Homo sapiens: one gene and its partners. The protein of the gene in region 2 purifies or fractionates together with the protein of the main gene of each other region. This does not show direct contact. Each region holds a gene or a part of one and is shown on either strand. Other genes may lie near its edges. The genes, in order: RPUSD3, MINDY3, ZC3HC1 and RNF25.

Evidence for each region.
Region 1: the proteins of MINDY3 (region 2) and RPUSD3 purify together in Homo sapiens (affinity purification with mass spectrometry; 3 studies listed by BioGRID and IntAct, with this or other methods). This does not show direct contact.
Region 3: the proteins of MINDY3 (region 2) and ZC3HC1 purify together in Homo sapiens (affinity purification with mass spectrometry; 3 studies listed by BioGRID and IntAct, with this or other methods). This does not show direct contact.
Region 4: the proteins of MINDY3 (region 2) and RNF25 purify together in Homo sapiens (affinity purification with mass spectrometry; 3 studies listed by BioGRID and IntAct, with this or other methods). This does not show direct contact.

What each region holds. Positions count from the first base shown.
Region 1 is NC_000003.12:9,840,689-9,848,824, reverse strand, and holds the start of RPUSD3 (mitochondrial mRNA pseudouridine synthase RPUSD3), read left to right. Parts: upstream 1-4,816; 5' UTR 4,817-4,834; coding exon 4,835-4,935; exon of another isoform or gene 4,936-5,071; coding exon of another isoform or gene 5,072-5,100; intron 5,101-5,223; coding exon 5,224-5,360; intron 5,361-6,581; coding exon 6,582-6,626; intron 6,627-6,742; coding exon 6,743-6,842; intron 6,843-8,019; coding exon 8,020-8,127; intron 8,128-8,136. UniProt on the Homo sapiens protein: Catalyzes uridine to pseudouridine isomerization (pseudouridylation) of specific mitochondrial mRNAs (mt-mRNAs), a post-transcriptional modification necessary for their translation.
Region 2 is NC_000010.11:15,857,293-15,864,911, forward strand, and holds the start of MINDY3 (ubiquitin carboxyl-terminal hydrolase MINDY-3), read right to left. Parts: upstream 3,216-7,619; 5' UTR 3,008-3,215; coding exon 2,914-3,007; intron 1,509-2,913; exon of another isoform or gene 612-1,508; intron 400-611; exon of another isoform or gene 1-399. UniProt on the Homo sapiens protein: Hydrolase that can remove 'Lys-48'-linked conjugated ubiquitin from proteins.
Region 3 is NC_000007.14:130,048,306-130,055,916, forward strand, and holds the start of ZC3HC1 (zinc finger C3HC-type protein 1), read right to left. Parts: upstream 3,070-7,611; 5' UTR 3,062-3,069; coding exon 2,916-3,061; intron 2,184-2,915; coding exon of another isoform or gene 2,138-2,183; intron 840-2,137; coding exon 728-839; coding exon of another isoform or gene 669-727; intron 1-668. UniProt on the Homo sapiens protein: Required for proper positioning of a substantial amount of TPR at the nuclear basket (NB) through interaction with TPR.
Region 4 is NC_000002.12:218,663,392-218,669,453, forward strand, and holds the end of RNF25 (E3 ubiquitin-protein ligase RNF25), read right to left. Parts: intron 5,289-6,062; coding exon 5,214-5,288; intron 4,951-5,213; coding exon 4,848-4,950; intron 4,756-4,847; coding exon 4,688-4,755; intron 4,591-4,687; coding exon 4,521-4,590; intron 2,840-4,520; coding exon 2,768-2,839; intron 2,669-2,767; coding exon 2,525-2,668; intron 1,857-2,524; coding exon 1,764-1,856; intron 1,483-1,763; coding exon 1,348-1,482; intron 1,145-1,347; coding exon 566-1,144; 3' UTR 501-565; downstream 1-500. UniProt on the Homo sapiens protein: E3 ubiquitin-protein ligase that plays a key role in the RNF14-RNF25 translation quality control pathway, a pathway that takes place when a ribosome has stalled during translation, and which promotes ubiquitination and degradation of translation factors on stalled ribosomes.

The DNA of each region.
Region 1 (8,136 bases), on a different chromosome or scaffold from region 2:
CTGTCACTTGGGTTAAGACGATTGGAAGTACTACGATTATAAATTTCATATTAATCCTTGTGTGCCTGTTTTGTCTGTTGTTCAAGTCTGCAGGTGTACCCAACAGCTCTGAAGAGACAGCGACCATCAAGAACGGGCCATGATGATGATGGCAGTTTTGTCGAAAAGAAAAGGGGGAAATGTGGGGAAAAGAGAGATCAGATTGTTACTGTGTCGTGTAGAAATAAGTAGACATAGGAGACTCCATTTTGCTCTGTACTAAGAAAAATTATTCTGCCTTGAGATGCTGTTAATCTATAACCTTACCCCCAACCCCGTGCTCTCTGAAACATGTGCTGTGTCCACTCAGGGTTAAATGGATTAAGGGCGGTGCAAGATGTGCTTTGTTCAACAGATGCTTGAAGGCAGCATGCTTGTTAAGAATCATCACCACTCCCTAATCTCAAGTACCCAGGGACACAAACACTGCGGAAGGCCGCAGGGTCCTCTGCCTGGGAAAGCCAGGTATTGTCCAAGGTTTCTCCCCATGTGATAGTCTGAAATATGGCCTCGTGGGAAGGGAAAGACCTGACCGTCCCCCAGCCCGACACCTGTAAAGGGTCTGTGCTGAGGAGGATTAGTAAAAGAGGAAGGCATGCCTCTTTGCAGTTGAGACAAGAGGAAGGCATCTGTCTCCTGCCCGTCCCCGGGCAATGGAATGTCCCCTGGGCAATGGAATGTCTCGGTATAAAACCCGATTGTATGTTCCATCTACTGAGATAGGGGAAAACCGCCTTAGGGCTGGAGGTGGGACATGCGGGCAACAATACTGCTCTGTAAGGCATTGAGATGTTTTATGTGTATGCATATCTAAAGCACAGCACTTAATTCTTTACCTTGTCCATGATGCAGAGACCTTTGTTCACGTGTTTATCTGCTGACCTTCTCTCCACTATTATCCTATGACCCTGCCACATCCCCCTCTCCGAGAAACACCCAAGAATGATCAATAAATACTAAGGGAACTCAGAGGCTGGCGGGATCCTCCATATGCTGAACGCTGGTCCCCTGGGCCCCCTTATTTCTTTCTCTATACTTTGTCTCTGTGTCTTTTTCTTTTCCAAGTCTCTCGTTCCACCTAACAAGAAACACCCACAGGTGTGGAGGGACAACCCACCCCTTCAGAAAGTAATAGTTTATTTCATTTATTTATATTTTTTCTCTCCTTTTCACAGGTGTTGAACAGTTTATTTTACTAATGCATGTGGTTTACCCCAACACATCCCAAATATCATGATTCCAACATGTGGTGTTGGCTGCATTTTCAGAGCTTGCAGTCATACGTCTTAGTCTGTTGGGGCTGCTGTGACAAAATACTGTAAATTGGGTCTCTCTAACAACAGCAATATAATGTTCACAGTTCTGGAGGCTGGCAGTCCAAGATCAGCTGGCATACAGGGTGTCTGGTGAGGGCCCACTTTCTGGGTCATGCCTGCCATCTTCCCACTGTGGTCACATGGCGGAAGGGGCGAGGGAGCTCTCTGGGGCCTCTTGTATAAGGGCGCTAATCCCAACCACAAGGGCCCCACCCTCATGACCCCATCACCTCCCAAAGATGCCACCTCCAGATGCCATCACCTTGGGGATGAGGTGTCAACACATGAGTTTGGGGGGACACAGACATTTGTTCATGTGGTAAGTGGCTCCAATGCTGGCCTGCCTCTGAGGCCTGGCCTCCTGGTGGAGGGCCGTGCAGGCACAGGGCTCTCGTGCACTGGGGTCCCCGGGGACACCTCCCACCCCTGCCCAGGCTCTACTTGGGAGTTGGCAGGTGCTGAGTCCTCTTGTGACCTTCTTAAGAAAGTCCCTCCTGGCCAGGTTCAGTGGCTCATGACAGTAATCCCAGCACTTTAGGAGGCCGAGTCGGGTGGATAACTTGAGGCCAGGAGTTCAAGACCAGCTTGGTCAACATGGTGAACCCCTTTCTCTACTGAAAATACAAAACTTAGCAGGGTGTGGTGGCAGGCGCCTGTAATCTCTGTTACTTGGGAGGCTGCAGCTAGAGAATCGCTTCAACCCAGAAGGCAGAGGTTGTAGCGAGCCGAGATCACGCCATTGTACTCCAGCCTGGGCAACAGAGCAAGACTCTGTCTCAAAAAAAAAAAAAGAAAGTCCCTTCTCTCAGAGCTCAGGGCTGATAACAGAGCAAGAAATGCATCCTCGGGGAGAGAGAGCAGCCTGGCCTGGCCTGGCCTGGGAAGGCTGGCTTCAACCATCAAAGACAGCTCTCACACCTCAGGCCCCAGGGCCTGGGGCTTGATCCCTGCATCCCCTCTTCCGCTGGCTGAGCTCTGTGCCTCAAGAGTGAGACTCCACCCTCCCAGCACTCCCTCACAAGCAGACCGGGCCCCATCCTGCCTCTGCTGACCCCCACTCCCCTGGGGCCTGCTCTCTGGGTCAGGACCCGCATGGAAACCAGGGGCAGGCCATCCCAACACCTCCCAGAGGCTGCCGGCAGCTCAGGCTGGTTTTCCTGTGACCAGTGCAAGTGTTCTTTTCAGTTATCTGACTTCCTTCCGGGGCATTCTGAGCCCACCCATAGCTTTTGGCATGCCTTTAAGGGACACAAAGAACCACAACAGCCACTGTGTCCTCATCTGTAAGGCAGGGCCCCAACCCACCCTGCCTTCCTCATAGGGGTGTGTAATGCTGGATGAAAAAGCCTATTAGAAAGTGTCCGTCAAAGGCCGGGCACGGTGGCTCACACCTGTAATCCCAACACTTTGGGAGGCTGAGGCAGGTGGATCACCTGAGGTCGGGAGTTTGAGACCAGCCTGGTCAACATGGTGAAACCCCATCTCTACTAAAAAATACAAAAAATTAGGCAGGTATGATGGTGCATGCCTGTAGTATCAGCTACTTGGGAGGCTGGGGCAGGAGAATTGCTTGAACCCAGGAGGCAGAGGTTGCAGTGAGCCAAGATCGTGCCACTGAACTCCAGCCCGGGTGACAGAGTGAGACTCCATCTCGAAGGAAAAAAAAAAAGAAGTGTCTGTCAAAGGCCCCGTGCGGCCTTTAATCCCAGCACTCTGGGAGGCCGAAGTAGGTGGGTGAATCCCTTAAACCCAGGAGTTTGATTTTTTAAAAATTATTTTGTTATTTTTATTTTCTTATCTTGAGCCCAGGAGTTTGAGACCAGCCTGGGCAACATCGTGAGACCCCATATCTTTAAAAAAAAAAAAAAAAAAAAAAAAAGCTAGGTATGGTGGTGCACACCTGTAGTCCCAGCTATTCAGGAGACTGAAGTGGGAGGATCGTTTGAGCCTGGGAGGTTGAGGCTGCAGTGAGCTGTGATTGTGCCACTGCACTCCAGCCTGGATGACAGAGCAAGCAAAAAAACACATTAGTGGCCGGGCACAGTGGCTCACGTCTGTAATCCTAGCACTTTGGGAGGCCAAGGCGGGCGGATTGCCTGAGCTCAGGAGTTCGAGACCAGCCTGGGCGACATGGTGAAACCCCGTCACTAAAATACAAAAAATTAGCCGGGTGTGGTGGCGGGCACCGCACCTGTAATTCCAGCTACTCAGGAGGCAAAGGCAGGGGAATCGCTTGAACCCGGGAGGTGGAAGTTGCAGTGAGTCGAGATCGGGCCACTGCACTCTAGCCTGGGTGACAGAGCGAGACTCTGTCTCCAAAAAACAAAAACCAAAACACATTAGGAAAATGTTCACACCAAACTCAAAGTGGAGACTGGGGAGGGAGTGAAAACTGGAAGCACGCAGTAAAGGGGAATTTACTTTTATCCCTTTCATTTCTTAAACAAGAAAAACAGGAAACCTATACATATATATATTGTTTCACAATGACTAATTCTGATGGTAGGAATGTGGGCAGTCATTATATTATTCTTTTTTTTCTGTGTTCTTCTACTTTCTTTTTCTTTTTTCTTTTTTTTTTTTTTTTGAGACGGAGTCTCGCTCGTCGCCCAGGCTGGAGTGCAGTGGCACGATCTCGGCTCACTGCAAACTCCGCCTCCCGGGTTCACGCCATTCTCCTGCCTCAGCCTCCCGAGTAGCTGGGACTACAGGCGCCCGCCACCACGCCCGGCTAATTTTTTTGTATTTTTGGTGGAGACGTGGTTTCACCGTGTTAGCCAGGATGGTCTCGATCTCCTGACTTCGAGGGGCCACAGGACTAGTAGAGCCAAGAGTTGAGGGTCCGGGTGGGGTGATCCGGCCGTCAGAAATGCAAAAGCCTGGAAAGACATCTCCAAAGGCCAATCTCAGGTTGGACAATCGTGAGCTGGGGAAGCTGCAAACACTGTGACCTCCGGAATAACCGCTGGTAATCAGTTACCTCTAACCCTTAGCAGAATTCAGGTCCCTCTACTACTCCTAACCTGGTGGCCTTTCATTAACTCTATGAAGCCAGTTTAGTTCGGGGGAAGGGCAATTATCATTTAGACTACGAACTAATTTCTCCCAAAGTTAGCTTGGCCCAAGCCCAGGAATGACCAAGGACCGTTTAGAGGTTAAAGGCAAGCTGCGGGTTGGTTAGATCAGATCTCTTTCGCTGTCATAATTTTGTAATATAATTTTTGCAAAGGCGGCTTCAGGTTTTTTGCTAAGACAGGTTTTTTGATCAGATCAAATTCTTCTGCTACAGCGCTCTCCCTAAAAGCATAGGAAGGCATTTCTGCATTTCCTTCCTGGGCGGAGGAAAAGCCCCGCCTCCTCAGGCTCTGAGTCCCGCCCGGTCACCATTCCGATTGACACTCCAGCTGACCAATCAGCGCGCTGGCTGGAGCGCGGGTCTGCCCCTCTGGACGCACATGCGCGCTGTCCTGGCTCGGGAGATGGACGGCCGCCGTGTTTTGGGCCGGTTCTGGAGTGGCTGGCGGCGGGGCCTGGGTGTCCGCCCAGTGCCCGAGGACGCAGGCTTTGGCACCGAAGCCCGGTGATTAAGTACCCCCTCTCTCATGCGGGACGGAGGCTAGGGCAGGGGGAAGGCACGTGCGGGATCTGGATCAGGTAGATGTTACCCGAAAACAGCCCCGTTGGCCTCTCTGAGCCTCGGTGCCCTCCGCTGTAGAATGGGACCGGTCGTACCTGAATTTTCGAGGTCAGCCCAGACATTGTGAGGCATTTGTCAGAGGCCGCAGGATTTGGGAAGAGGCGTCCGGAGATAGGAATGGGTGGCACCTCGGGATGGAATGACTCCCATTGCTTCTCCCTCCTTGTCCAGGCATCAGAGGCAACCCCGCGGCTCCTGCCAACGGTCGGGGCCCCTCGGGGACCAGCCCTTCGCGGGGCTGCTGCCAAAAAACCTCAGTCGGGAGGAGCTGGTTGATGCGCTGCGGGCAGCCGTGGTGGACCGGAAAGGTGAGGGGTGAGAGGCACGGCCGCACAAGGACCGGGAGGGGACTGCCTCGGCGTGCAGTTGGGCTCTCCATTGAAGCCACGGGATCAGCCCTGCTTCTGCCTCCCACTAGCAGCATGAGCTGGGACAAGCCACCTAATTTGCACCCTCTCCCCGCTTTTAACCCTACTGCCATGATGCAGTAGGGTTAAGAGTGGGGAGAAGATGCAAATAACTACCGAGCCTTGCACATAGCCGGCGCTCAGTTACGGGAGTTGCTATACTAGATTATTGTTTATTGGCCGCGGTGGCTCACGCCTGTAATCCCGGCACTTTAGGGTGCTGACGCGGGCGGATCACCTGAGGTCAGGAGTTCGAGACTAGCCTGGCCAACATGGTGAAACCCCGTCTCTACTAAAAACACAAAAATTAGCCAGGTGTGGCGGCGTCCGCCTGTAATCCCAGCTACTCGGGAGGCTGAGGCAGGAGAGTCACTTGAACCCGGATAGCAGAGGTTGCAGTGAGCCGACATCGTGCTACTGCGCTCCAGCCTGGGATGACAGAGCAAGACTCAGTCTAAATAAATAAATAAATAAATAATGATTATTTATCGACGGACAAAACACAGGCTTTGGAGTCAGACATACCTAGGCTCTGTGATCAGCTTGCTGTGCGGCTTTAGGAAAATAACTGAATTTCTCTGAACCCCACTCTCTATTCAGTGATTTATTCCTTTTCTCAACTATTTCTTGAACATATGCTATGTTCCAGGCACTGTTCTAGGCAGGCTATACAGTGCTGAAAAAGATAGATATGGTTTCTGCTCTCAGGGGAGAAATGGATTTCTCTCTAACGGGAGAAATGGATGTCAGAAAATAAATGAACAAGTTACTAGTGGTAAGTGCTATGCATAAACTAAAACAGGGTGTTATGATGGTGAGGAACTGCAGGAGGAAGGCAGACATTAGATTGGAGATTCAGACCTCTCCGTGATGTGACATTTGAGCCAAGATGATAGGGAGCCAGACCTGGGAAATTTGGGGACAGGAAACAGCAAGTGCCGAGGCTCTGAGGTGGCAGAGGAACAGAAAGAAGTTGAATTTGGTGTGGGGTAGTTAACTCATGTCTGAGAGTCATGATGGGGACATGTGCTAAGATGCGTGAGAAAGTGCTCTGGAAACTCTTTAGTGCTGCATAAAGGGTTACCGTTGCTTTTGCTGATGTTCGTGTGATGTATGTTTCAGGACCTCTAGTGACGTTGAACAAGCCACAGGGTCTACCAGTGACAGGTATGGGCCGGGGATGTGGGAAGGGAATGCAGCGGAAGGGGGTTTCGTGACTGAGGGAGGGAAAAGTGAAGGCATGAAGCTTTGGCCTCTTGTAATTTTTCTTTCTTACTTTCCAGGAAAACCAGGAGAGCTGACGTTGTTCTCAGTGCTGCCAGAGCTGAGCCAGTCCCTAGGGCTCAGGGAGCAGGAGCTTCAGGTTGTCCGAGCATCTGGGAAGTAAGTGGTAGGGGTGACAGGAAGCTAGGAGTACAGGCATCCATCTGTGGTGGGGAAACAGCTGCTTGGGGATAAGCTGAGACATTTTCCATGGGAAGGTTTGAGATCATAGAGGTGGATACAAGTACTGTGAAGAAGAGGAAGCCGATGGCTCTGGGTTCAAATCCTCAAGTACAAATGGTGTGATACCAGGCAAAGCATGACACCTCCCTGACGCTGGGCACAGTGACTCACACCTGTAATCCCAACACTTCTGGAGGCCAAGGCAAGAGGATCACTTGAGCCCAGGAGTTCGAGACCAGCCTGGGCAAAATAGACCCCATCTCTGGAAAAACAACAACAAAACTTTCCGCGTGGTGGCTCATGCCTATAATCAATAGGACTTTGGGAGGCCGAGGTGGGAGGATTGCTTGAGTCCAGAAGTTCAAGACCAGCCTGGGCAACATGGCAAAACCCTATCTTTACTTAAAAAACAAAATAAAACACACACACACACACACACAAAAACCTAGCTGGGCAGAGCAGCACATGCCTGTAGTGCTCGGGTGGCTGAGATGGGAGAATCACCTGAGCTCAGAAGATGGCAGCTGCAATAAGCTGAGATCCCGCCACTGTACGCAAGCCTAAACAACCTGAATGAGACCCCGTCTCAAAAAAACAAAACAAAACAAATACCCTCCCTGAGCTTCAGTTCCCCTAATGGTAAAATAGAGAAAATAATACCTATGCTCAGTGTGCAGTCATTTCTCCATGACGGTACTCGTGGCAGGCATTGCTAGTCGATCCATGATACTCTTTCCTCTAACTGCCATCAATTAAAGATGGTACTTGAGATGAAATATTTCTGCAGTTCCACAAACTCATGAGCTTTTTTGTAGAGAACTTATTTAAGAGCTAATATGTACAGAATTTCTAGTAGAATTCTGGCACATGGTAGACAATCGTTACGACATTTGGCTCTGAGTTCCCTGGGGGCCGGGGCAAAATGAGAAACACATTAAGCTACATAGTCTTGTTATCAAAGAAGGGGAAACCTTACTTGTTTCTCAGGAGTTGGTCTAGGTTATAGTCCTGGTGTTAGTGTTTGGCCTGAAGCAGGTCAGTGTTCCTAAGAGTTTCCTTTTTAGTGGGCGAGTTCAAGGGACTTTAACTTGTGTGATTTGTCTGCTTATTCCAGAGAAAGCTCTGGGCTTGTACTCCTCTCCAGCTGTCCCCAGACAGCTAGTCGCCTCCAGAAGTACTTCACCCATGCACGGAGAGCCCAAAGGCCCACAGCCACCTACTGGTGAGAGGT
Region 2 (7,619 bases):
CCAAGTGTTTGCTCAAATCTCATCTTAAAATGAGGCCTGACCAGGACACCCCACCCAGAACTCTGTATTTCCTCATCTTCAAACTATTTATTGTACATGTGTAATTTATGCTACGTTATATTTACTGTTTGTCTTCCCTCCCACCCTACTGACTCTCAACTGTAAGAGCTTGGAATACTGGTGTAGTTTGTGGGAAGGGGGGAGGATAAATAGTGTTAATGAGCTAAGGAAGTGAAAATTATATGCTATTCTTTAAAAAGTACTATAGGCAATTGAGCAGGAGGAAAGCAGAGAGAAGAATAAATTTTCACGTTAAAATAAAACCCTGCCAACTTTAAGCCCTTAAATTACATGGCTTATTGCCTTTAAAATTAAAACTGCCCAAAAAAAGAAGAAGAAAAAAAACACCCCGCATTTTTTAAAACGAACAGGGATTTGTAGAAGAGAATTATCTAAAAATGTCAAGCCAATTAAAAACAACTATGTGCCACTCCTGCAGCTTATTGTTTTAACAACCATATCAAAAGAATTTAACTTGATCAATCAATATAATTTTATAGATGAAATATCTCTAGACATAATTGTATAAATATTCATGCCAAACATCTTACATCTGTATCTTGCTTCCAGAAAACTAATGAGACTGCAGTTGTCAACTGAAGACACGATCACAGACTATGAAATAAAGCCAGAGTTGATGTCACATTAGTAATGCAGCAAAGCAGTGTCTTGTGCCTGTTCCCACAATCCCAAAGGACTGCCACAGCAATATTTAGCAATGGCCTCAAAGAACAAACAAATGAATACAACAGTTAACATATCAAAACCAGTAACAGGACCCCTCTGATTCAGAGGCGATAACTTCAAAAATATATGTTTGGTTGCCTTAAAATCTTAATCAGTGTAAGGCCTTGAAGAGCTACATATCCAAAATATAACTAACTGCACCCTGTAAACGAAAAAAAGAAAGAAATCCTTTATTTTGAAATGGTACTGATGGAACTAATCCTGTTAAAGAATTTCTGCATGATTAAAGGTGGCAGAGCGTTCTAATAAGTCATTATAAAGTTCTATTTAGAATAATGATTAGCCATCAAATAAACAACTTATTGTAATTGTCAGGAAAAAGCCAAAGAGTGAATTTGGCATAGTCTACAATTAAACACTTTTTAAAATAATATAAAAACAGCTACCATATACTGAGTGTTCACTATACGTCAGATAGTGTGCTAAGCACCTAAATTATTTACATGGCCTCTAATCCTCACAATAACTCTGTAAGGTCTATTATCTGTACTTTACAGAGAAGGAAACTGAGGCTTAAATAAGCTAAATCACATGAACCTGAACCAAGTACATCTATTCCAGACTGTGCTCTTAACCATTACTAGAACTGCCACCCTGAATCTTCCTTGTATTTGCATTACAGTATAAATATAAACAGGGCTGAATATTATCTTATTCTACTTTGTAAAATGTTTAATAAATGTTAACTGATTACAATGGAAGTAAATTTTTTCTTAGTCTTTCACAGTATTTTAGAGCTGCTTACTATTAGAATAAGTAAGTCAAAGTGGGAAGTGTTAAAATAAAATCTCCCTCTAAGAAGCCCAAGATTAGGTAACTGACATAATTGAATGTGAAAAAAAAGAGCCCAAGTCATTACATGTAGGGTTTGGGAACTCAAAGGAAGATAATGAAAACAGAGGTATATTAGGAATCGAGAGACCTGGAATCCACTCCCAGTTCTATCGATTTGTGCAACTTTGGCCCAGTCATTTACCTTTACAACTAATTTTTTTCGCCTGCAAAGCAACAGTGAGGGACTAAATATCCCAACTTAACAATACATCGTAATTGTAATTTTACCAGCTCTTAAAACAAACATGTGGGAGGGAGGGAGAGATTACGTAAATCCTGAATTTTTGTTACAAAATACACGTTTTGAAATAGGGGTTTATATTTACTATGCCAAAATTCCGCCCAATCTATTTCGGGAACAGGTGTTCCCTAAATAGATGTTTTAATAATAATAGTGTTTTACATACATAAATTATTGATCCTTCTGACTCAAGGTTATGTTTTAACCTCATCATCATCTTTCCTAAGTCACCTTTAGGAATGTGTCAGTTGTTTGCCTATCCAAACTTAAGAATTAGGGATAGTTACTAGTATAAAGCGCCCAGCCTGTTACAGTGCAAGAATTCAATAAATGCTTATTTTATTTCATTATTATTTGTACTAAGACTCTTCATGTAAGTAAAAGTCCTGTCTGGGTTACAAGCATACCGGCCGAGGAAGTACTATGATCCATATTCCTTTTTTAACCGTGACAGATAATAAACCATATAAAAAACGGGGATACTTTGGGCCAAGAGTACACTTTTTAGCAAATAACAGTGTTTATACACAGACTACCACGCCTAACCACATAATGACAATACAAACAAAAAACTGCTTTTTGGAATTAGCCACTTGGACTTTCCCTTGGACGTCCCTCCTTCTCACCAAAAATAGACCAACCACCACCAATAGACAGCTCTGTTAGGGGGTAAAGATGCGGAAGGCCACAGCACCCCTTGAGAAAGTGACACCGGGGCACGGGGCGCATCTTCCGTGTCACGCCCTGCAACCCAGCAAGGGGCCACCCTCTCCTCCTCCCCAGCCGAAGGGCAGCCCGGAGGATGGAAAGAGCGCTGCGGGTATTTAGTGGCAGCTGTAACCATTCTCCTACTCAAACTCTCCCCACCAAGGCAAGGCAGGGCGTGTCTAGAAAGTCCAGCTTCAGCGCTGAGCACGGCGACTGGGGCAGAGAGCGGGGCACGCGAGGGGCTGGAGCGAGAGGCGTCACAGGCGGACTCTCGCAGGGCAAAAGAAGCAGCGGCTGCAAGTGTGAGAGCCCCGCCAGGGTACCTTGCGTCCAGCGGCAGAAAATGGTGTCCGAGAGACCGGGGCTGCTCTTGGTGCCCCACACCAGCTCCATCAGCTCTTTAGTCAGTTCGGACATGATGAGGAACCGGCGGGCGGATCTTCGCTTTGCGGACTCCTGCCCCGGAACATGGGGAAGGGGCAACTCCGGAAACAGCAGCTGCGGGACGGCGGCGGCAAACGAATTGGAAGGTGAGGCAGGAAAGAAGAAGGGGCTGAGAGCCACTTGCAGAGACCAAGCCTGTCAAGCCAGGTTGGGGCAGCAGCGAGTTTTCCGTACCGGAAGTGCTGGTGCCACTTCCGACTCCTCTTTAACTCCCGCCCCTTAAGGCTGAGGGCCCGGAAGTCCCCTCCCCGGAAGTGAAATTGGAGGCGGAAACAGGCACGGAAAGCGGTGGAAGTAGCTTCTGACCTTTCTGAACTGTCTGGGACCCTTTGGTGGGGTGGTAGTTTTTGTATTGGGAAGGGGCGTCGGCGTGTTTCTAAACTCCAGGAATACCTTCTTCCTCTACGCACTGCTCTGGGCTAAGCTGGAGGCTCTGAGGCCCAGGCACTAGGAATTAGAACATATGCCCATTGCTTGTATTTTTCAATATTAATTTTGCAAAACTAGAACTATAAGGCAATAGTTGAGTCACAGTGCGGTAACATCCGTGCCTTTGTAGGGCGCTTCTCATAAGCTGGAGGCTGTCCGCCTCTGTACTTCAATAAATCAAAGTCAGACCAACTATTACCTAAAAACATGGCAAAGAATGTGGCATAATGTGCATTAGAAATGCTTCCACCAGCTGCAACGCAGAATTACAAGGTATTTGTAGGGAAACAAATTCAGAGCAACCTGTTTGTAAATGTTACAGCATTTTCATCTCCAGTTTTTGACACTGCAGAGTGTGTGGGCAACACCTGGACTAAAGTTTAGGTTTTACTCATTAACTAGCAGTTAAATTGAGTTCATGTGAAAACTTATGTTTGTGCTGCTTAAAAAAAGAGGGCTTGTATTGCCCGAGCTTTGAATTTAAAACGAAAGGGCAAAATCTGATTTAAAAAAAAATACATGCTTTTATTTTGGTTCTGTAAGGTTTCTGTACTCCTTGGAAACCATATTACTTTGGGATGCAGTAATGCAATAGTTAAGAGGCCAAGCTGTGGGTCATACTGGCCCATATTCCTACCTTTTGCACTTACTAGCAAGTTACCTACTATCTACCTAGGCTTTTTTCTTTCTAAAAGGGAGATTGCATACATTTCATATATTGTAAGGAATAAATGGAAAAAGTAACACATACAAAGGATTTGGTGTACTTCCTAGCACATGGAAGGCATTTATGCAACAGTGGGTATTTTTTTTACCTCAAGAAGCCATTTTGTGGGAATTTGATGCAACAGTAGTTCTGACTTTTTTACCCATAAATTCTAGCCAGTTGTATTTTAGTATAATACGTTATGTTCTCTAATTTCAAAAACATGCAGTTTCATTGTAGAATACCCTTGCATTTGGCTAATTAAAATTAACCCTTAATTTAAAATCTTTTAGATTGCAAATAAGGTTTTGTTAATTTATGCTTTATTACTAGCTATTTTTTCCTATTTATACGTTATTTCTAATTTTATTTTAATTAATTTAATTTTATTTCTTCAGTACCCTTTACTGTAATTACAGGGACTTGCCCAAAGTGCCTGTAGTAGAGCCATAGCATTCCTTTTGATCTTTATTCCCTTTAGAATATCCCTTGCCTTGTTTTTGCAAATCAAATCTTACCTATCCTTCATGTCAGAGTGTGCATGCCAAACTTTCTCCAGTCATTACAATTGAAAGTAATAATTATAATTTCTGAGGCTTCATAGTACCTTATGTGTAACTTGCTTATGACAATTCCTATCATCATTGTATTTGCAAAGAGTTATTTGCTTTTCTCTTGGGATATAAATTTATGGAAGCAAAGAGCTGCCTATTCATAATTCTAGCATGGGGCCTTGAACATCACTGGATCTCAATAATTACGATTCCAAGGAACAAAACTTGCCTTTACTGGAAATAAAGAATTCATTATCTCTCAGCAAGTGAGAGATCGGGGAAGTAGTACTGACTGCTCCAGTTAAATATCTAATATTCGCATGCTGATTACAATTTACGTAATTCTTCCACTTCCTGAAAGACACAGAAGGGTCTATGTACATAGAGCTCATAACTGGCAGACTTCTAAGTTCAGAAGTGTTTCCACATTTGACTTTCTCCATTAATGTATGTAAATATTAATGGTGTAGTGTATATAACACTACATTTGTTTCCTTTACATTAATATAGATAGTAGTTATAAGTTTGATTACTTTGTTATGAAAAAACAAAAAATTGTACTTTCAAACTGTATTTTTTTAAACGAGAAATTTTTTGATCTATGATTTTTCTTAGTTTCCAGCTACAGTGATGCTGGCAAAATCCTGGATAGACATTTATATGAATGTCCTTTCCACTTCCACATTATATTTTTTTTTTTTTTTGAGATGGAGTTTCGCTCTTTTGCCCAGGCTGGAGTGCAGTGTCACCATCTTGGCTCACTGCAACCTCCACCTTCCAGTTTCAAGTGATTCTCCTGCCTCAGCCTCCTGAGTAGCTGGGATTACAGGCACCCGCCACCATGCCCGGCTAATTTTTGTATTTTTAGTGAGATGGGGTTTCACCATGTTGGCCAAGCTGGTCTTCGACTCCTGACCTCAGGTGATCCACCCACCTCAGCCTCCCAAAGTGCTGGGATTACAGGCGTGAGCCACCACATCTGGCCCACATTATAATTTTTATGTGTAATCTTTTAAATTTTTTAATTAGCAGGACATATCTTTAACAAGGAATATTTTACTTTTAAATTATTGGCTTAATTATTCATTAGGTATAACATTTAAATAGAAATTAATATTCATCAAAATTGTTCTTATTCAGTAATTATCTATAAATAAATATTTAAGTGAATCACGTTTTGCATCTATACCTGGTGCTGGATGAAAATGCCTTTCTCTTGTTATAATGACTTGGAAAATTATGTAAATGTTCTTTCATGTATTTATAACACTTCATATTTTAGCATATTGTTTTTCTCAGGACTGTCTATGGTTTCGATTAAACTTGTATCACTGAGGTGTATATAGGTTGCATTAATAATCTTTCACTTCCTATTTATATGTAAGTTTTATTAATAATACTTCTGTTTCTTTCAAATTCAAGTCAGGGTGCTTCCATAAAACTGGGCTGAGATTTCCATTATAATGAATTCTTTTTATCCATCTTTACTACTTCAGGCAACAAAATTAATTACTCAGCATTAAACTCTAACTCTGTTTAATTATTTTCCTGTCTTTCCTCAAACTTTTTTGCCAGATAAAAGCACAACAACTTTATTGCCTAGTTCCTAGCAACTAACATGAAAAGTACAATTCTCCAGTTGGAAACCCTGGACTCCTAATTTAGTGTATTTACATTACTCCTTACCTAGAAGAAATCAAATATTTCAAAAACTCACCCTGTCATAAGATTAATAACATTTAGGTGGGTCATTAAAACAATCCCATACTCATTTATTACTAAAACTTTTTCATTTGTATGTCCTCTGCCTTCCAATAGCAGCATAAATCTACCAAAGCAAATGAAACTACTTCCTTCTGCATCATCCTAACCTTATCTCAGCAGGATAATACTTGTCCAGCTGAGCAAACAAGTCCCTTTCAGACTCACCAACATCATATTCAAGGGTGGCATAGTGTAGCACTCCCCATTGCATCTCCTACTGACATTAATACATGGTGGTAAAGGGGAAGTGTCATTAAATGCTGGGTTAAATAAATTTAAACAGGTCATTCACTGCAACTCTCCAGGAGTGGGGATTGTGTTTAATGTTAACAGACACATTTGAATCATTTCATTCACTGAACTTCTTATATAATTTATGTTCTGCAAAATACTGTTAGGGAATCAGGGGTCTAATGAAATCGTCTCTTGAAATGGAATTAGAAAATCTGAATGTTAGTCCCCATATGGGCAGTAAGTGTGATGTTGGGTGAATCATTTAACTAGCCGTACCTTGCTTTCTTCATCTGTAAAATAAGAGAACTAAATATAGGTTACTTCTTAAGGTCATATTCACTGCAGGTCCTGTACACTTCTATGATTCTAAAAAGTGGCTGTCTTTAACTTGAAATGTATGGGGATAATGGGGAGAAAAAGAATATCGGAAACGTGTATGGAATAGAGAAATAATTATGGCATTATTCTTTAAGACATAGAATAAAAGAGGTCATTTGCCATTTTAGCACTTGTGCTAACATTATGAAATGAGAAGATAAAATTCCAACTTGTACATTAACACAAGACTAGCTATATAAAGTAACCATATAATATTTACACACTTGGATGTGTCATAGGCACCTCAAACTTAATATGTGCCAAATTAAACATGACTCTTCCCACAAACCCTGCTTTACTCTCAATGTTTCATATATCAGTGAATGGTGCCATGATCTACAAAAAGCTCATTCCTTAATGTTCTTGATTGTGATAGAATGAATAAATACTCTCTTTCAGGCTCAGTTACCACATTCATAAAATGATCTTATTAATAATTGTATCATACAGCGATTGTGATATTTAATAGGGAACATTAGGCACGAAAGAATTACAAGCATTGAAAAATACTATTCTTATG
Region 3 (7,611 bases), on a different chromosome or scaffold from region 2:
CACCTGGCTAATTTTGTTTTGTTTTGTTTTATTTTATTTTATTTTTCTTTTGAGACAATTTTCCTAGTTGAGCCTTGAAATGACAGTGCCCTGACCAACCTTAATTGCAGTCTGTGAGAGACCCTGAGCCAGAGGACTCAGCTAAGCCATGCCTGGATTCCTGATCCACAGAAATTATGAAATAAAAACTGTTTGTTGTTTTAAGATCACTAAGTTTTGGGGCAATTTGCTATGCAGCAATAGGTAGCTAATACACAAAGGAAAATCTAGAAAGAGACATTATAGTAGTGTAGTCTCTAATAATCTAAAAAACATTAGATTATAATCCTGGATCTGCCATTTGCTAACAGGTTCATCTTGGGCAAGTCATATAACCTGCCCCAAACTGTTTCCTCTTCTGTAAAACAAGTATAATAATAATGCTTATTTTCATAGGTTTAAGGTCAAGATCGAATGTGATAATATATACAAAAACATACTATATACAAGTATTAGTTATTATTTCTTCTTTTCTCAGGCTCTTAGTTTTTTCTTCTGTAAAAAGAAAAGGTTAGATAACCTCAACTGTCCCTCTGAGTGATAACATATTAGGATGCTGACTTTCCTATATAATTTCTTACCAAGGTTTTATTCTTAAGTTTAAAGCATCACAGTAAGTGGTGTAATACCTTGGAGGAATTCTAGAAGCAGGCAGAAAGTGCAATTCACATGAACTAAAAAAGGATATAGAAAATGTTTCCACTCTGCTAAAGAAGGCTTCTTTGCTTGTAGATTCCAATGAAGGTTGTTCCGCTTGGGGTGATCCATTAACTGACTGGGATGTGGCAGACGTGTCCTTCCTAATATAAAGTGGCAAAACTGTTGGTAAACCTTTCACAGTACCCTCTGCTTAAATGTTATCTAGCTTCTCTACACATCGTATCATAAATCACACCAACGCTGGATTTTAAGCTTCCTAAAAATCATTTTACTCATGTCATTCCTCAGCTTATTATTTTCAATGGTTTTATAATACTTACTAAATAAAATCCAAATTTTTCAGTCTGGCATTCAAAACTCTTTACAGTTTACCCATATCTAAACTTCAATTTCTACCTCTACAGGGCTCCACTAATCCTAGCAAACTATTCTCCTCACTCACTCACTGTTCTCCACAAGTATTTGGCATAACTTTAGTAGACAGAAAATAAGACTCAAGACTTCAAGTATGCATTATACAATTTGAATCTCTTCAGAAATTCGACTTTTTTTTTTTTTGAGATGGAGTCTCGCTCTGTTGCCCAGGCTGGAGTGCAACGGTGCGATCTCGGCTCACTGCAACCTCCACCTCCCAGGTTCAAGCAATTCTCCTGCCTCGGCCTCCCCAGTAGCTGGGATTACAGGCGCGTACCACCAGGCGTGGGCCCGGCTAATTTTTTGTATCTTTAGGACAGACGGGGTTTCACCATGTTGGTCAGGCTGGTCTGTAACTCCTGACTTTGTGATTGGCCCACCTCAGCCTCCCAAAGTGCTGGGATTACAGGCGTGAGCCACAGCGCCTGGCAGAAATTCGACTCTTAACAGCAGAAAAAACAATTTTGATATTTCTACCTGGAGGGACCTTTCATACCCACTCCTTCCAAAAAAAAAAGAACCAATTAGAAAATTCGAATCAAAGATCTTCGGGAGATTTCATGAAAAAAAAATCAGGGAGAAAAAAACTCAGCAAAGCAATTCTCTCATTTTCAGTGGAAGGCATTTCAACAGTGCCTGGGGAATTGCTGAAAGACAAGCATTTATTTATTTATTTAGAGACGGAGTCTCACTCTGTCACTCAGGCTGGAGTGCAGTGACGCGATCTCGGCTCACTGCAACCTCCGCCTCCCAGGTTCAACCAATTCTCCTGCCTCAGCCTCCCGAGTAGCTGGGACTACAGGCGCGGGCCACCACGCCCGGCTAATTTTTTGTATTTTTAGTAGAGATGGGGTTTCACCGTGTTAGCCAGGATGGTCTTGATCTCCTGACCTCGTGATCTGCCCGCTTCAGCCTCCTCAAAGTGCTGGGATTATAGGCGTGAGCCACCGCGCCCGGCGACAGGCATTATTTTAATAAAAATAGGATTACATCAACGATTATAGCTCAAAAGAAATAAACTTACTCTAAGACTCTCAGAGATTCATAGAGAGCCTCAAGCGGGTGTGGTTCTAGGCCAAAAAAAATTCACAGCATCCATAAACTTGGATGGGTAAAAATGACATTTATTTCTCTCTAAATGACAAGATTTAGCATTTTCTTCAATTATGAATGAAGGTAAAAACACCATAGTAGTATTAGCAGTACCTGCTAATTTGTCACCAATGGAAATAATGTTCCCACATTATGGTGGTTGCATGTCTTCAAATACCTTTGTGCTCATCACTACTTCAAAATTATGGTTGACAACACATACTACTAGATATTATGGACTCTTTAATAAAAAGCATTGTTACTGCGTAACTTTTTCCTTTTACCATCTTGATAACTACATTCCAATCTAACTGGTTTCCTTTATAATCCTATGTAATTTACTTTAAGCATTTAAAAATATTCTGAGAGTTAATAAGCTTCTCCAGAGAGCCAAAGGGGTCCACGGCACAAAAAAAGGTTAAGAATCCCCAATTAAGAGAAGTCAAGTGAACTCATTCAGTTAACGGTCCTCTTTACTTCCAAAAATAATGTCCGATGACAAAATTTCGGCTGCGGTTGGGAATCTGGTACACCCCGAGGGGAAGATCAAAGCCGATCAAACATAGTAACCAGAGTTTCTTTCAGATTCTAAGAAGCCATCCCCACTGCCCGAGTCGCCGACCGAGGGGAACCTCCCCCAACCCGCCACCCCTTCCCCAAGCCTTCTTCAATCTTCCAACGCCGGACCCAGGGTTAACTCGTGAACTCACGCGTCCACGCCTCCCTCTTCCGGGGCAATCCCCTCATCTATCAGCTGCCGGATTTTCTGGGGGGTCCCTTCTGGGGAGCGAACTACTGCACCCCAATTCTTTTCAACCCCTACGGCAAACGCTTGTCCCTCACAGGGCGCCGCCATCTTGGTCCGCTGCCGAGTTGCTTCCCCGAGAGTTTGAAGGCTCCGGAACTTCCGTCCTGGGAGGTTAATATCCGCCTCTTGAGGCAGCCTGGCTGGGAAAGTCTAACCGCGGGGCCCACGCCTTTTCTCATCATTTTAGAACCTTAGAGCGAGCTTAAGGAGGGCTGTACTGTTTAGGACAATCTTGATTAATCGTTTCCTTTATCAACTAGCATATTTAGGTTGATAAGAGATTTTTAGAACGCTGTCAGTCCAAATTCAGCAGGGATGAGGGGCTCAACTTAATTTTCAAGTAATATTAACTAATACGGCCGGGCGCCGTGGCTCATGCCTGTAATCCCAGCGGTTTGGGAGGCCGAGGTGGGCGGATCGCCTGAGGTCAGGAGTTCGAGACCAGCCTGGCCAACATGGTGAAACCCCATCTCTACCAAAAATACAAAAATTAGCTGGACTTGCTGGCGGGCGCCTGTAATCCCAGCTACTAGGGAGGCTGAGGTAGGAGAATCGCTTGAACCCGGGAGGCGGAGGTTGCAGTGAGCCGAGATTGCGCCACTGCACTCCAGCCTGGGCGACAAGAGCAAAACTCCGACTCAAAAAAAATAAAAATAAAAATAAATTAACTCATACGACCCTCCTAAGTTGCACCTTTCTACAAGCGAGGAAATGGTGACCCTCATTGGAGAGCAAATAATTTAGAATCCTTGTTGGAAACCGTGTTATGGATGGATTTAGAAGTCTGTGGCATTTGACACTATTGATACTCCTTCCTTAGTCCAACAAATATTTATTGAAAACGTCCTATTTATTTTTTTTGAGATGGAGTTTCGCTCTTGTTGCTCAGGCTGCAGTGCAATGGCGCGATCTCGGCTCACTGCAACCTCTGCCTCCCGGGTTCAAGCGATTCTCCTACGTCAGCCTTCCGAGCAGCTGGGATTACAGGCATTCGCCAACACGCCCAGCAATTTTTTTTTTTTTTTTTTGTATTTTTAGTAGGGACGGGATTTCACCATGTTGGTCAGGCTAGCCTTGAACTCCTGACCTCAGGTGATCCGCCCGCCTCGGCCTCCCAAAGTGTTGGGATTACAGGCATGAGCCACCGCGCCCGGCCGAAAGCATCCTATTGATAGTCTCTAGGCACTAGCAATGACAGTCGTGAGCAAAGAAGCTGTAGATCTTGGTGGAGTTAGATGTCAAATTTTCCTATAGTTTTAAAATTATGATTACAAGTGCTCCAAGGATGTACCAAGGTTATAATAGGAGAATCTAATTTAGTTTGCACATTCTCCTGAGAAAAATCAGGTACTGGAGCTGAGACGGATGAGATTGAAGGGAAGAAATCTGTACAGAATCTTCCAACACCCCAGGTTGGAAGACTGATGTGACTAAACAATGGGCAAAGAGGAAAGTGGGATCACCTCCTACCCTTCCAGCACCCTACCTGTGGGCTCCTAACTCTATCAGTGTTCCCAGCAGCAGGACCTGCAACCTATTGATCCAATTACCTTTCTGCTCTTCCTAACTCCACCACCACCCTTGTTTCTTCTTTTCTTAGCCAGCTTAAATTCATTACTAATTGTTATCATCATCCCTTTGCAAAATTTGAACATGGGTTGAGACTTAGTTAATATGAAGGAAACATTGTTGATTTCACTATATGTAATAATGGCATTGTAGTTATGGTTCTTAAAAGCCCTTCTTTATTAGAAATGCATCTTGAAGTGTTTATAGGTGAATTGATATGATGTTTGGAATTTGCTTTGAAGTTATCCAGGAAAACATGTGGAGGAATAGATGAAAAAATATTGCAAAATTTTAAACTGTCGGACTTGGATGATAGAATTGTGGGATTCATTATATTATTCTTTCTGCTATTAAGTATGTTTGACAATATCATAATAAAAAGCAAAATAAATAAGCTAAAAAATACATGTTCTTGAATACCCTTTGAATTTCCTTGAACCTCTCTTGCTTAATAGTACTTACTTGACAAAACCTCAATCACAGTTGAAGTAAGTTCTCTATTATTGCTTCTGTACCCATACAACTAAATATGGCTAAAGAGAAATGACAAACTTGTCTCTTTATATTCTTGACTTCAAGTGGGACCTTAATTCTGCCCAGTAATTATACTACCTTTATCTAGTCCACTTCTCATCCCACTTTTCATAGATGACTTATTTTTATTTTTTATTTTTTTAAATTTATTTTTTATTTTTATTTTGATTTTTTTGCAGACGGAGTCTCCCTCTGCTGCCTGCTGGAGTGCAGTGGCACAATCTCGGCTCATTGCAACCTCTGCCTCCTGGGTTCAAGCGATTCTCCTTCCTCAGCCTCCTGAGTAGCTAGGATTACAGGCACCTGCCACCATGCTTGGCTAATTTGTCATATTTTTAGTAGAGACGGGGTTTTACCATGTTGGCCAGGCTGGTCTTGAATTCCTGACCTCAGGTGATCCGCCCACCTTGGCCTCCCAAAGTGCTGGGATTACAGGCGTGAGCCACCATGCCTGGCCACCTGGCTAATTTTTATATTTTTAGTAGAGACAGGGTTTCACCACATTCACCAGGCTGGTCTCGAACTCCTGACCTCAAGTGATCTGCCCACCTCGTCCTCCCAAAGTGTTAGGATTACAGGTGTGAGCCACTGCACCCACCTTCATAGATGACTATTATATACCTCTCTCCTCAAACACCTTCAATACTTCCACTTATCCATCCTCCCTTTCTGCTAATGACACACTCCTAGGAAAATACTGACTGTACAGTTAGCCATGGTAACAACCAGCAATCAGAGCCAGTTTTAAGTTCAATTGACCCATGATTACTCATCACAGTGAATGTGTTTTTGTAAACCCAATGAATGACAACTTCTTGATTCAGCCAATCACAAAGACTCACTTCAATAAGCACTCCTCTGAGTGCCAGCCACTCAACAATAGTTTCACCCAAGTTATCACTTCTACAAATGATGCTAACACACACCTTTGAAAGTTTGCCAATCTCTGAACTCCCCACTTTCTCAAAGTCTGATAGATTAGTAGTCTGGTCTGCTTGAAGACTGTGCCTCACCTGCATGGCTCTTACTGTTTATAGTAAGCAAGAAATTTGGCTTTGTGGTTTTTTTTTTTTTTTTTTTTTGAGACGGAGCCTTCCTCTGTCGCCCAGGCTGGAGTGCAGTGGCGCATCTCGGCTCACTGTAAGCTCCGCCTCCCGGGTTCACCCCATTCTGTGGCCTCAGCCTCCTGAGTAGCTGGGACTACAGGCACCCGCCACCACGCATGGCTAATTTTTTGTATTTTTTTAGTAGAGACGGGGTTTCACTGTGTTAGCCAGGATGGTCTCAATCTCCTGACCTCGTGATTTGCCTGCCTCAGCCTCCCAAAGTGTTGGGATTACAGGCATGAGCCACTGTGCCCGGCCGGCTTTGTGTTTTTATTTCGCATGATGAATGGTGTTCTCATCATCCTCTAACCGTACTTTACCTTCCCTCCTGTTACTATTGATCAGTGGTTCTCAAATGAGTGTGATATTGCCTGCCACAGGACACTTGGCAATGTCAGGAGACATTTTTGGTTGGAGTGGTGATAGAGGCCAGGAATGTTGCTAAGCATTTTACAACATCCAGAACAGCCTCGCCACAACAAAAAATTATCTCACCCAATATGTGCACAGGTTGAGAAGCCCTGCTGTAATCTATGTGCCTATCTAAGGCCAAACTTACACATTGGATCTAATTCCCCTTGCCTACTCAAGAACATTGTCCACCAATTCTCCCCTCCACTGCACATTTCCATTAGCAGCAAGATATTACTTCTCCCATCTTAAAAACATGCAAAACAGGCCAGGTGCACTGGCTTATGCCTGTAATTCCAGCACTTTGGGAGGCCAAGGGGGGCAGATCACCTGAGGTCAGGAGTTCAAGACCAGCCTGGCCAAAATGGCGAAACCCTGTCTCTACTAAAAATATAAAAATTAGCTGGGCGTGGTGGCATGCACCTGTAGTCCCACCTACTTGGGAGGCTGAGGCATGAGAATCGCTTGAATCCAGGAGGTGGAGGTTGCGGTGAGACGAGGTGGTGCCGCTGAACTCCACACTCCAGCCTGGGCAACAGAGCAAGACTCTATTTCAGAAAACAAGAAAACACCTTCTCTGCTTTTATTTACGGCAAAGGTCCTTCAAAAATTATCTATCCTAGCGCTGGGTGCAGTGGCTCACCTCTTTAATCCCAGCACTTTGGGAGGCTGAGGTGGGTGGATCACTTGAGGTCAGAAATTCGAGACCAGCCTGGCCAACATGATGAAACCCTGTCTCTATTAAAAATACAAAAAAAAAAAAAATTAGCTGAGTGTGGTGGCACGCACCTGTAATCCCAGCTGCTTTGGAGGCTGAGGCAGGTGAATCACTTGAACCTGGGAGGTGGGGTTGCAGTGAGCTAAGATTGTGCCACTGCACTCCAGCCTGGGCCACAGCATGAGACTCCGTCTCAAAAAAAAAAAAAAAAGAGGCCTTTGGCCAGGCATGGTGGCTCACGCCTGTAATCCCAGCATTTT
Region 4 (6,062 bases), on a different chromosome or scaffold from region 2:
CTGGGCTCAGCTCAGCTCTCCTCCTCTAGCTCAATAAACATCTGCCACACTACTCTGCTCTCTCATCTCCCTTCATCACTGGATTGGTACTTGAGTAAGACGGGCTGCAATCACAGGTGCCTACAGGGGTCAGTCAGGCAACCACATATACAAATGATGGGGCATAGCCTAAGATAAAGAGATGAGACACAAAACAGGAAACTAAATTCCTCTACCTAAAGGCATTCTATGTATATAAATAATGGACAGGCATGGGTGTGTACACAATGAGTTGTTAACGGTGGGTCCTAAGGACTCTGCTTACATGCTGACATCCCACTAGTTTTCCCTGAAACTCACTATACTAGCTGATGAGATGTCAGACCCTCTTTACCCAGCTCTTCGGAGAACAGACTTCAGAGCAAAGTTGGGGGCTGCTCTGCCACACCCCAATCTTATTAGGAATTGAGAAAAAGAGCCATTCCTCACAGGCTAGGCGCTGCTAAGCAAAGAAAGCCAAAGAAGGCCAAATATCTTTATTGCCTCCCTCCCATCCCCAATTCCCTGTTCCCCCCACCAAGTCCTGCTAGGAACCATCCTTAGATTCCAGGCCCAGGGACTCCCTCCGAGTACCAGGCCGGTATGCTCCCTGGCCCCGAGGCAGGCGAGGGTAGGAAGAACCGGGTGTCCGGCCTTTAGAGCGCTCCCAGCGAACACAGTCCCGAGTCCTGCGGGGTGGGGGCCCCTGCCAGCTGCCAGGCCCCTTCTCTTGTGGAGGACCTTCAACTCCTTGGCTATGGGGTTCTGGCTTTAGGTCCATGGGCTCCTTGAGGGGCCCCTCAGGAGGTGGCAGTTCCTGGGTGTCACGGGTACCTTTAGGGGCGTGGCACTCCCCTCCCTTTGGGTGCCTCCGTTCGGGCTGTCGCCAGGGACCTCGACTGGGCTTGGGGGGATCTAGCATAGCTTTCTGGGTTTCGCCCAACCTTTGCTGATTTGACCTGGTCCCTGGAATCTTCTCACATATGTGCTGGGTCGCCACAGGCAGAGGAGGTGGCAAAGTGGATTGGACGGCTGGTGAGGTGGATAGTTCTGCTGCAAGGGTGCTGGGTGGTTGGGATCCTTTGGAGACATCTACAGCTGACTCAGGTTCCGCAGGGGCAGGAGGCTAGAAATAAGTGACAAGATGCAGTGAGGGAGATGCAGTTCCTCAAGGTGGGGAACTACAGGCCCCTCTCCTACTATCTGGGCTGACCACGATCAGCCTATCATCTTCCTGGTTAGAACAAAGCTCACTCTGGGGCCATGGCTGATTGGGGTTTGTAGAAAGGTTGGTGGCATTACAGGACAACTGGGAAGCCCTTCCCTCACCTGCTGAAGGCTGATGAAGTATCGGTTTCGCTCAGCCTCAAGGTCAATGATTCCCCCCCGCTCCTGCTGCCTCTGGTAGAGCCGCTTGCGTTCTTCTTGCTGGCGCAAGCTCTCTGCACTGGGCTGGTACAGCTCCTGGAAGGAAGAATGGCAGAGAGGAAATAATGAACAGCAGAAGGCTGACTCAAACCTCTACTCCTCCCAGGCTGCCTCAGGAGATCTGCACTGGTTTTGCCCCTCAGGTCTGGGCTCCCAGAGTCTTAGGCTCCCGCCAGTGGGGGATGTGGCTTTGCAGAGAGGTCCTAGGCAGTTCAAGCCCAATTTCAGAGATCCCATTTGACACAGACAAGATGCCATTCCTTACTCTTTAGAAAATACCATTACTCCTGGCTCAGATTGGAAAAAAGTCTCCTTACCATGGGCTGTTGGGGTTCAGGGGCTGCTTTCAGTGAGGCAAGATCATACACGAGGGGCTCTCTGCACACTGGACACTGCACACCGACTGCCTTCTAAAAAAGAGAAAAATCATATGCCTGTGTCACAGCCCAGGATGCCCCCTGGTGCTGACCCATCAGCCAACCTAATCTGCAGAGGGCTGGGACTAAAGGGCACAGGGACACCGGTTCAGCAGTGAGTTGGGACAGAGCACGGGTTGTCTAACTAGAGATCTGGGAACCCCCCGAAACTGCATGCAATATGTAAGTGTATATAAGGATGCCCTGGCCAGGCACGGTGGCTCGCGCCTGTAATCCCAGCACTTTGGGAGGCCGAGGCGGGCGGGATCACTTGAGGTCATGAGTTTGAGACCAGCCTGGCCAACATGGTGAAACCCCGTCTCTACTGAAAATACAAAAATCAGCTGGGCGTGGTGGCTCGCACCTATAATCCCAGCTACTCGGGAGGCTGAGGCAGAAGGATTGCTTGAACCCAGGAGGCGGAGGTTGCAGTGAGCCAAGATTGTGCTACTGCACTCCAGCCTGGGTGGCAGAGTGAGACTCCATCTCAAAAAAAAAAAAAAAGGATGCCCTTTATTCTGGACAGAGGTAAGAGTTCATTAATCTCAAGGGTATCTATGACCCTGAAAAAGTGAAGAGCCACTGGAGTGGAGAGATGGAAAAGTTTGTGAAAGGCTGTGCCTAAGGGTGTCAGATGAGTGTGCAGGTGCAGTGAGGTCTACCTGTTTGGTTGTAGCATGCTGCCGTTCCTGTTCCTGCTCCTGTCCTTGTGCCTTCAGCTCTTGCTCCATGTGCTGGATGTACCGAGCAAGGCAGTGGCAGTGGAAGTAGTGGTAACAGGGTGTTTTGGTAAAGGCCTCCTTCTCCTAGAGGGAAGGCAGATGTAGGGCACTAAGTCAGAGCTCTCTCACAGCCCTCATCTGCTGGTCCCAAACAGAATGCCAGGTCCCAAGAGAGAAACCCACCTGGAAACCATAGAGGCAGATGACACACTGGCCATGAGGGATGTTGTTATCTGTGAGAATTTCCTTCCCTTTCTGAGGAGAGAAGACACTGATTAAACGGGGGTAGGGGGAAGAACGGTGAGCAAGGCCTGTCTACTACTCCTAGGAGTGACTGGCTAGACTTGGCTCCTAGCAGGCCAGTTTGTTACCTTGTGTTTATGCATTTCTGGCTTGGTGACGCTCCCTCTGCTGGGAATCAATCCTTCTCCACATCTCTGCCCCTCCCCCAAAATTTGATCTTCCTGGTTTCAAAATTCAACCTAATTGTTTTTCCTTTCATTAAGTCACTTTTAATATATCTTGGAGATGAAAATAATACACCTTGAGAAAAAAAATGTTCAATTAAAATTTATCTTCTGGGAGGCCTTTCTTGATTAGCCCCCTTCAATATCACTCCCCCATGGGGCAATGTGTTTGTTCTAAGTCAGCTTTCAGAAAGCATGACAAGGCATGGACAACCCAAATGGACAGAGAATTCACAAGGCATTGAGTTGGGCTGTGAACTATGCATTTGAATTGTTATTTGAATAGCTAATAGTGTACTCTGGAATTCCACAAAGTCCAAGGCTGCATTGTGGAGGCCTGACCTAGGACTGCTACGGTGGCCTATCAAACCCACTCTCTTTGACTCTCAGCCACCCACCTTCATTCTATTCTGAACATTTTTCTTAAAAATTTAAACTAAGAGAGGCTGGGCGTGGTGGCTCATGCCTATAATCCCAGCACTTTGGGAGGCTGAGGCAGGTGGATAACCTGAGGTCAGGAGTTCAAGACCAGCCTGGCCAACATGGAGAAACCCCATCTCTACTAAAAATATAAAATTAGCTGGGTGTGGTGGCACATGCCTGTGATCCTAGCTATCTGGGAGGCTGAGGCAGGAGAATCACTTGAACCTGGGAGGCGGAGGTTGCAGTGAGCTGAGATCACACCACTGCACTCCAGCCTGGGTGACAGACTAAGACTGTCTCAAAAAAAAAAAAAAAATTAAAATTAATAAATAAACAAACTAGGGGAAAATAAAACTGTACTTAATTTTATATTTTTAATCTCAAACAATAAAAGTTTTCTGTGTATATTGGAGCTTCAGGTGTTGCTTCATGTGGGTTGTTTCATCAAGCAGTGTATAAGCTCTTTCAGTAAAGGAACCATGACTTTTTCTTTTTTTTTTTTTTGAGATGGAGTCTCACTCTGTTGCCCAGGCTGGAGTGCAGTGCATGATCTTGGCTCCCTGCAATCTCCGCCTCCCGGGTTCAAGCGATTCTCCTTCCTCAGCCTCCCAAGTAACTGGGATTACAAATGCCCGCCACCGTGCCTGGCCAACCATGACTTTTTCTAGTCAGGTCCAATGGCAGTCTAGCCTTCAAATGTTCATTTATGGCTAAGACGCCCCCAAGCAAGATGCGTATCTTTTGCCACTTTCAGTTGCCAGTGCCAAGAGAACAAGACATATACTGAAACTGATGCAAGAAAAATTCAAGGTGAAGAGGAAAAGTCATTTTCTGTCAAGATGCTGGCATAGGCAACTTGGAGAAGCTACTGAACTGTCTTTTGGGAAGTTTTTCAAATAGAAGAGTCTCATTTCTCTGGATTAATTTAGGCCTTACCTAATGACTCCAGATCCGTTTAAGATTCTAGGCCCATGGTTTCCCTTTTACAGCTAGAAACTGCTCTAGCTTGAAGGAAAGAACATATCTCAGACTAGCGCACCTCTTACCTCAATGAGTTCATACAGCATGGCAGTGCCCAGCCCAGCCTTGGCCACGTGGCCCAGCACCTGTAAGATCCTGGAGGAAGAGGGCAAACCAAATATTAGACCTGCCCATTTCTGTCACCGGGCAAAGCTGTAGCTGAGTTTTCCCTGTTCTGACAGGTTCAACTTACGTGTGGATCTGTTCATCTGAAAGTCCTCGGGGATTTCGGATAGAGATCTGTGGCACCTCATGGGGATACTAGTGGGGGCAAATAACAAGTTACTGCTGAAGCGGTCCACCCCAGGGACTCTCCCCTTCCTCCCTTTGCTGCCACACAGTAGGGGCTTCACCTCTGCTGGGACCTGAAGCACCAGAGTGAAGCAGACATACTGTGAATCCTGGTCCTCTGCAGTGGCAGGATGCAAAGTGATGTAGATCTCCCATGGTGAAGTTCTGCAGGTGGATCAAGTGGACACGCAGATGTGACTGGGTAGGGGCTTGGGGGCTGGGGAGGATGGGGCTGAGACAGTGAAGTGGGCAAAGGAAGTACACATTGGACTCTTTCTTTTGGGGTAGGATTAAAGGAATAGCTTTTGTCTACACAAGAGAAATATTATCTCTGAATCAAGGCTCACAATGTCTTAAGACCCAAATTCAGCATAGAACCTCTCCTCATTACTAGGGGGACTCCTGCCCACCACTGGTTGAATACATACCTGCCATTTCCTTTAATCACCTGTAGTTCATCTAGATAGATGGACTCCAATACTTCAACTTCAGAGGGAAGGACCCTAGAGAGACAGGAGTAGACTAACTTACCATTACAGCTCTCCCTGTGGAAGCCTGCTAAGGCCAATAAAGGCAGGCTTTGTAGAAAAATGGCAATCTACCAGAATGCATTCTCCTGCTAAACTCCTTAAAAACAAGGAATATGTTACCTTAAGTTGTCAACTGGCCAAATAGAAGGCATGGAAATCAGAATTTTAGGCATCATTTCTGCCAACAGATGAAGAAGTGGATTCTAGAGAAGTAAAATGACTAACCAAGGCTTAACATAGGTAGAACTAGGCCCAGAGCCAGGTTTCCTGACTCCCTGTTTAAGTTTCATTCCCCTTAGTGGCTGAATCTCTGGTCTAGAGATATGGCACTCATTCATTAGCATTAACGTTACCAATATTACTCCAACCTTTCCCTACGTCACTGTCCAGTGTGGATCCCAGTGCCTTGGCTACTGTCTACATACAGTTTTAACACCAGTCACCCTAAGCCTTCTTAAAGGAGATAGCAACCTCAACACAACATATTTAGGGTGGTATAAAGGCTGTGTTGTAATGGAAGAGCCAGCAGCCTCGGAGTTAGTTAACAGGTACCAATCACTTACAAGCTATGCAATCTGGGACGTGACCTCTCTGTAAGCTTAAGTTATCCTGTCTGTCACATATAGATAATAACACCTACTCTCTAGGGTTATTGTGAGGATAAAAGGTGATTTGTTTACATAAAGTACCTAATAGTATCTGGGCTATCGTAGCTAGTCTACGTCCTCTTTTTTTCCTGTCTGTATA